2 linked regions of the Homo sapiens genome follow. The protein of the gene in region 2 purifies or fractionates together with the protein of the main gene of each other region. This does not show direct contact. Each region holds a gene or a part of one and is shown on either strand. Other genes may lie near its edges. The genes, in order: BORA and MSH5.

Region 1 (3,823 bases), on a different chromosome or scaffold from region 2:
ACAGTAATTGCAGATTGTATCAAAGTGAAAAAAAAATTCATTTGGAAAAAATGTTATATTGTCAGTGTTTTATTTCAGAGTTAATATTTTTGACTGTTTAGAACTGTGAACTATCCTCATCTATTTTACAGTAAAAGTTGATTCTAAAATTATTGCCATGATAAACTTGTTATAATTGAAGAGAAAAACTTTGGACAATTTTTAGATGTATGTTGAATTAAATACTTCTTAATTTGTATTAAGGGACAAAGTTTATCAAATTTATATTGTTAAAAGCAATTTAATATCAATGTAAGTCTTTTGAAATAAAGTATCATTGCATTCAAACTTTGAATGGAAAAGAGGGAGGTAAGCCTAACAGCTAACTGCTGAATTTCAGAATACTGCCTAAATGTTACTAAATGTTACAAGATACCACTAGTATTAATTATAAAGTGAGCTTAACATTTGCCAGTTTTCAATGAAGGGAGATTATTTATTTGAAAGGTTATTTTTTAAAATGTTCAATAAGCTTAAGTAATAGCATGGTTATTTTTCTTCTTTATCTTTGTATAGAATAGATAAAGATGTGGAAGACAAAAGACAAAAAGCCATTGAAGAGGTAACTTAAACTGTTACTGATCATTAAATCAGTTAAGGATCAATTCTGCATGTACATCACTTCTTTTAGGAAGACTTTCTTCAATTCCTTCACTGTCCTATCTCCCCTCCAAGCCCTTCACAGTCCCATCTATATAAAGCACCCTTCTGTACTGTCCTAAGACCAATAATTTCCAGCTATCCCAGTACCTTGCATAGCACTTGCATACTGTTGTAATGATCAGTTTAGTGTTTCTGTCCCCTAGACGCAATCTTTTTTGGCCAATACTGTACTTCATCCTTTCATTCTCAGGACCTAGCACAATTTGTCTTCCTTGTGCCTTCAAAATGTTGATTAGCACAAACTTTGTTTCAAGTTGGAGTTTATGTAGAGGAAGTCGAATATTCTCAGGCCTTCAGAGTCTAGATTGGCATTGGGAATGGCTTTGTCTTTTTTTGTTAATACTTTGGATTTTTAAGATATTCATGAAATAAAATCTCTTACTGTTAAACAGGAAAGGTATATCATAATGTAGGCTTTCTAAAAAATAAAAATAATTAAGTTTTTTGCTTTTTTATGTCTGTTGAATTGCCTTTCTTAGCATCTAAATAAGGTTATTATTATTATTATTTTTTGTTTTTTGAGACGGCGTTTCGTTCTTGTTGCCCAGGCTGGAGTGCAATGGCATGATCTCAGCCCACTGCAGTCTCCGCCTCCCAGGTTCAAGTGATTCTCCTGCCTCAGTCTCCCGAGTAGCTGGGATTACAGGCATGCGCCACCACACGCAGCTAATTTTGTATTTTTAGTAGAGACGGGATTTCTCCATCTTGGTCAAGCTGGTCTCGAACTCCCGACCTCAGATGATCCGCCTACCTTGGCCTCCCAAAGTGCTGGGATTACAGGCGTGAGCCACTGCGCCTGGCCCAGCATCTAAGTAAGGGTTACTTACCTTGTTCTTTCCTCAGAAAGTCTTTATGTGATGGCAGCATTTCTGATTTTTACTTTTCTGCCCCTCTAGCCCCCTCAACCCTCCTCTGTTCCTTAGCCGTACTTGGCTCTTCCGTACCACAAAAGACTATGTTTACTCCTGCTAAACATTACCTACTTCTTCTTCTATCTAGTAACTGCACAGTTTTCATTCTGACTCAGTCACTTGGTTCTTCCCCACCTGAATATTCTCAGACTCTCAAAATTTCCAACATTTTGAAAAAATACTTTCTTTAAGAATCCTTAATTTTAAAGAGAAACCCAGCAGGTAAACTTAAGAAAATTTGTTTCTTTTCAATATATATTTTTGAAAATAGAAGAAACATATACATATAGTAAAAACAAAAAGAAAAAATATAAAATAAAAAGCCTCCTGTTTCCCCATCCCACTTCATGAAGGTAATGACTATAACATTTCTTATGTGTACTTTCAGATTAATTTTACTTATTTAATAGCATATGTCCTTAAAATATTTTCGACAAATAGGATTATCATTCTCATACTATTATCGTTCTCATACTGCATCCTCCTTTTTTTGCTTCATGATTTTTCTTAGAAATTTTTGATAACCAGCATATACAGATTTTTACATTCTCTTAGCAACAGCATAGTTACCTAGCCCCTGTTGACAGATGTTTAAATTGTGTTTATTATTTTTCTGTCACAAATAATGCTGCAGTGATTTGTATATATATCTTTATATTCTTGAAATGGACCTAGTAAGTCAGAGGCTTTGTGAATTTTCAGTTTTGGTAGATTTTACCATATTGCCCTCCTAAAAGGTTATACCAGTTTATACTCCTGATTACAGTGTGACACTGCTTGATTTTCCATATCTCCAATATTGATTATTATCAGAATTCTTAATTTGTTCTACTCCTATTACTTTAAAAATGACTTTTTTTTTTTGTATTTCTTTACTTTTGAGTGAACTTATACATCACTTTGTAAGTTTATAGGTCCTTTAATTTTTTTTCTGGTAATTGTCTATATCTGCCCCAGTCCACCTTTAAAAAAAAAAAAAAAAAGAATCTTTTCCTCTTAGATTCATGGGTAATTTAGTTAAGAAAATTAGCTCTTTGTCATATGTATAGCAAAATATGAAGAAAATATGTTTGGTTACTTGCAAAACCTAGGGAAGGGAAAACACTGTGGTAGAAATGAAAGAGGAAAGAAAAGTATACAAATGCTCTATCTCATTTGAATATACTGGCCAGTAGTGTGCTGGTGAATGTTTAACAACTTGCTCTCTGGTCGTGGAAGGAGTACGATTTATAGCGATTCCTGCTATCCATAGTGTAAGTACTCCAACCATGGCCAGTTTCAAGCTACTGATGTGACATCACTGAATGGGAAAGGAAGAATAGTGGCACACCATTATATGTAGGAATTCCACCATACAGATACAAAATACATTATTAACCTCAAGAGCATAGACATTGATAAATATATAAAATAATTAGCAAGTGGTGAGTTTTGGATATTTGTTACCTTTATTTTTAATATATTTAATTGTAAGTTTACATAATTTTATTTTTAATATTGGTTTTAACAACTGGTGCACAGAATTCTTGAAAATTTAATAATCAGATCTTGAGAGCCAGAACAAACAAGCCAGCTTCAGTGCCGTCATTCATACTGGCCTACTTGCATGTCTCTGTCTTAATATATTCCTTCCCTTTTCATCCTTTTTTTTGTAACCCCATCAAAAAAACCTGGGAAAGAAATTTAAAATACTTTGTCTATGATTAATCCTCTTAGTTTAGTTTGCAAGTTTCAAATTTAACTGGTTGATTTGAAGTATTAAGATTCCTCTTTATATATACTTTAAATTTCTTCCATTTTTCCTTTGGTCATTTGTATTAAAATTTTTGCATACAGTTATAAAGTTAGTATATGACATGTTTAATAATTACTTGGAAAAACACAGGTACCGTCTCACATTTTGGGTGGAATTTATGCCTAATTGTATGACTTTAATTTTCCTAGTTTTTCACTAAAGATGTCATCGTACCCTCTCCTTGGACTGATCATGAAGGGAAACAGCTTTCACAATGTCATTCCAGTAAATGTGAGTGTACTAAAAATGATATGAATAAAAATCAAAAAAGTCGGTGAATATAAAGCAACATATCATGAAGTGCCAGTATATCTGCTTTGTAAGAAGCTTGCTTTAAAATTCTGGATAACATAGAATTTAACTCCTTTTAGGGTTAGAATTAAAAATTTGACTAAAATTTATTGAATTGTTTTTT
Region 2 (3,823 bases):
AGCTCAGTTCTCGTCTGGACGTCATTCAGTTTTTTCTGCTGCCCCAGAATCTGGACATGGCTCAGATGCTGCATCGGCTCCTGGGTCACATCAAGAACGTGCCTGTGAGCCCAGGGTGGAGGGCAGGGAGGTGGGGAAGGAGGTTGAGGGCTGATACTGGGCAGTGGGCTTCTTGAGGGGCATTAGAGTGAGGGAAGAGAAAACAGCGGCTGTAACCTTGTCTGACTGTAGCTGATTCTGAAACGCATGAAGTTGTCCCACACCAAGGTCAGCGACTGGCAGGTTCTCTACAAGGTAAGGCCTTCCTTCTTGAATCCCAAAAGTCCAGGTAAAGGCCCTCAGCCTGTATTCCAGACTGTCTGTACCCTAGACATGCTGTCCAATTTTATTCTACCCTCTTTTTTTTTTTTTTGGAGACAGCCTCGCTCTGTCGCCCAGGCTGAAGTGCCATGGGGCGATCTTGGCTCACTGCAACCTCCGCCTCCTGGGTTCAAGCAATTCTGCCTCAGCCTCCCGAGAAGTTGGGATTACAAGCGCCCGCCACCATGCCTGGCAAATTTTTGTATTTTTAGTAGAGACAGGATTTCACCATGTTGGCCAGGCTGGTCTTGAACTCCTGACTTCAGGTGATCCACCTGCCTCAGCCTCCCAAGGTGCTGGGATTACAGGTGTGAACCACCAGGCCCGGCCTCCCTCTTTTTTTTTTTAACTTTGTATTCAGGAAAATGTAAAAAATATTTAGAATAATATAATTAACCCCCATGTACCCACCATGCAGTTTCAACACTTTAACTTACGCCAATTTTTTTTTATTTCTTTTTCTTTTTTTTTTTAGACAGAGTCTTGCTCTGTCGCCCAGGCTGGATTGCAGTGGTGCGATCTCGGCTCACTGCAACCTCTGCCTCCCAAGTTCAAGTGATTCTCCTACCTCAGCCTCCCAAATAGCTGGGATTACAGGTGCCCACCACCACACTGGAGTGATTTTTGTATTTTTAGTAGAGATGGGATTTCACCATGTTGGCCAGGCTGGTCTCAAATTCCTGGCCTCAAGTGATCTGCCCATCTCGGCCTCCCAAAGTGCTAGGATTATAGGTGGGAGCCACCGTGCCCAGCCTAGTATGTGTCATCTATATCTTTTTCTACTTTCCCCTCTTGGATTATTTTGTGGGTTTTGTTGTCGTTTGTTTGTTTTTTTAAATAAGGTCCTGCTTTGTCACCCATACTAGAGCAGAGTGGTGCAGTCATATTTCATTGCAGCCTCTAACTTCTGGGCTCAAGCAATCCTCCCACCTTAGCCTCCAGAGTAACTGGGACTATAAGCCTGAGATGCTGCACCTGGCTTTCTTGGATTATTTTGAAGCAAGTCCCAGCCATTATATCATTTCATCCATAAATATTTCAGTGTAATTTCTTTTTTCTTTTTTTTTTTTTTTTTGAGATGGAGTCTCACTCTGTCACCAGGCTGGAGTGCAGTGGCATGATCTCGGCTCACTGCAACCTCCGCCTCCCAGGTTCAAGCGATTCTCCTGCCTCAGCCTCCCATGTAGCTGGGATAACAGGCACATGCCACCATGCCCAAGTTTTTTTTTTGTATTTTTAGTAGAGACAGGGTTTCACCATGTTGGCCAGGATGGTCTTGATCTCCTGACCTCGTGATCCACCCGCCTCGGCCTCCCAGAGTGCTGGGATTACAGGCGTGAGCCACCTCACCCGGCCAATATTTCAGGGTAATTTCTAAAAGAAAATTATTTTTTAAAAAGAATAACAGTATTGTTATCTTACTTTAAAAATTGTATTATTTGGTATCATCAAATATCTGAAATTTTTCTTTTTTGAGACAGGGTCTCACTCTGTCACCCAGGCTTGAGTGCAATGGCACAATTGTAGCTCACTGCAGCCTCAAACTGTTGGGCTCAAGCGATCCTCCCCCCTCAGCCTCCTGAGTAGCAGGGACCACAGGTGATGGCCATCACACCGAACTAAGTTTTTATTTTTTGCTTGCATTTATTTATTTATTTATTTATTTATTTATTTATTTATTTTTGAGACGGGATTTTGCTCTTGTAGCCCAGGCTGGAGTGCAATGGTGTGATCTCGGCTCACCGCAACCTCCACCTCCTGGGTTCAAGTGATTCTCTTGCCTCAGCCTCCCAAGTAGCTGGGATTACAGGTGCGTGCCACCACGCCCAGCTAATTTTGTATTTTTAGTAGAGACAGGGTTTCTCCCTGTTGGTCGGGCTGGTCTCGAACTCCCGACCTCAGATGATCTGCCTGCCCCGGCCTCCCAAAGTGCTGGGATTACAGGCGTGAGCCATTGCACCTGACCAATTTTTTATTTTTTGTAGAGACAGGATCTCACTATGTTGCTCAAGGTGGTCTCAAACTCCTGAGCTCAAGTGATCCTCCTGCTTGGGCCTCCCAAAGTGCTGAGACTATTGGTGTGAGCCACGATGCCCAGTCAGATGATGGCCCTAGTCCTTTTTAATCTACCGGTTCCTTCTCTATCTTTTCTCTCTTGTTCTTTCTTTCTTTTTCTCTTTTTCTTCTCCTGGCAATTTGTTGAAGAAACTAGATTATTATTTGTCTTATAGTGTTTTCCATTAGCCTGGATTTTGCTGTTTGCATTTCCTAGATGTTTTTGGCACATTTCTCTCTCTTCTATAGTTTCTGTAAATTAATATTTAGTTCTAGAAGCATGATTAGGTTCAGAGTTTTTTTTTTTTCAATACTGTTTTAGAAGTAGAGGAACATAATGTCTGATATGTCCGATTGTCTCTCTTTTTCTGATGTTGGCAAATGTTCTGATGTTTAATACCTAAATCTATTATTCATTTATTTATTTATTTATTTAGTTTGAGGTGAGTCTCCCTCTGTCGCCAGGCTGAAGTGCAGTGGCACGATCTTGGCTCACTGCAACCTCCGCCTCCTGAGTTCAAGTGATTCTCCTGCCTCAGCCTCCTGAGTAGCTGGGACTTACAGGCGCACACCACCACGCCCAGCTAATTTTTGTATTTTTAGTAGAGACGGGATTTCACCATGTTGGCCAGGATGGTCTTGATCTCTTGACCTCAGGTGATCCACCCGCCTCAGCCTCCCAAAGTGCTGGGATTACAGGCGTGAACCACTACACCCAGCCATCTATTAATTCTTTAGCAATTACAAAGTAGTAGCATTTAAATCTCTGATTCTTTCTTCATTTATTAGCCAGAAATTTCTGTAAAGAGAAACTTCCTTTTATGTACTATTTGGTTGCCAAGTGATAGAAATCATATAGAAATACAGAAAATTGCTTGATATTTCCCCCACTCTTTTTTTTTTGAGACAGAGTCTTGCTCTGTCACCAGGCTGGAGTGCAGTGGCACAATCTTGGCTCACTGCAACCTCCACCTCCCGGGTTGGGTTTCAAGTGATTCTCCTGCCTCAGCCTCCCGAGTAGCTGGGACTATAGGCGTGTGCCACCATGCCTGGCTAATTTTTGTATTTTTAGTAGAGACAGGGTTTCACCATGATGGCCAGGATGGTCTTGATCTCTTGACCTCGTGATCCACCCGCCTCGGCCTCCCAAAGTGCTGGGATTACAGGTGTGAGCCACCATGCCCAGCCCTTTTTTTTTTCCCCAATATGGAACGCTTCTTGAATTTGTGTCATCCGTGCCCAGTGGCCGTGCTAATCCCTGTAACCTTCGAAATTTCAGTATATGTGCTGCAGAAATGAGCACCCCCCACCTTTATTTACTAGCTATCAATATGGTAAATTAGTTCCCTAACATTCTCCAAGATAGCCATGAGATTTTTTTGTTTTTTGTTTGTTTGTTTGTTTGTTT

The links.
Region 1: the proteins of MSH5 (region 2) and BORA purify together in Homo sapiens (affinity purification with mass spectrometry; one large-scale study listed by BioGRID and IntAct). This does not show direct contact.

What each region holds. Positions count from the first base shown.
Region 1 is NC_000013.11:72,734,405-72,738,227, forward strand, and holds part of BORA (protein aurora borealis), read left to right. Parts: intron 1-555; coding exon 556-601; intron 602-3,557; coding exon 3,558-3,639; intron 3,640-3,823. UniProt on the Homo sapiens protein: Required for the activation of AURKA at the onset of mitosis.
Region 2 is NC_000006.12:31,753,336-31,757,158, forward strand, and holds part of MSH5 (mutS protein homolog 5), read left to right. Parts: coding exon 1-104; intron 105-231; coding exon 232-294; intron 295-3,823.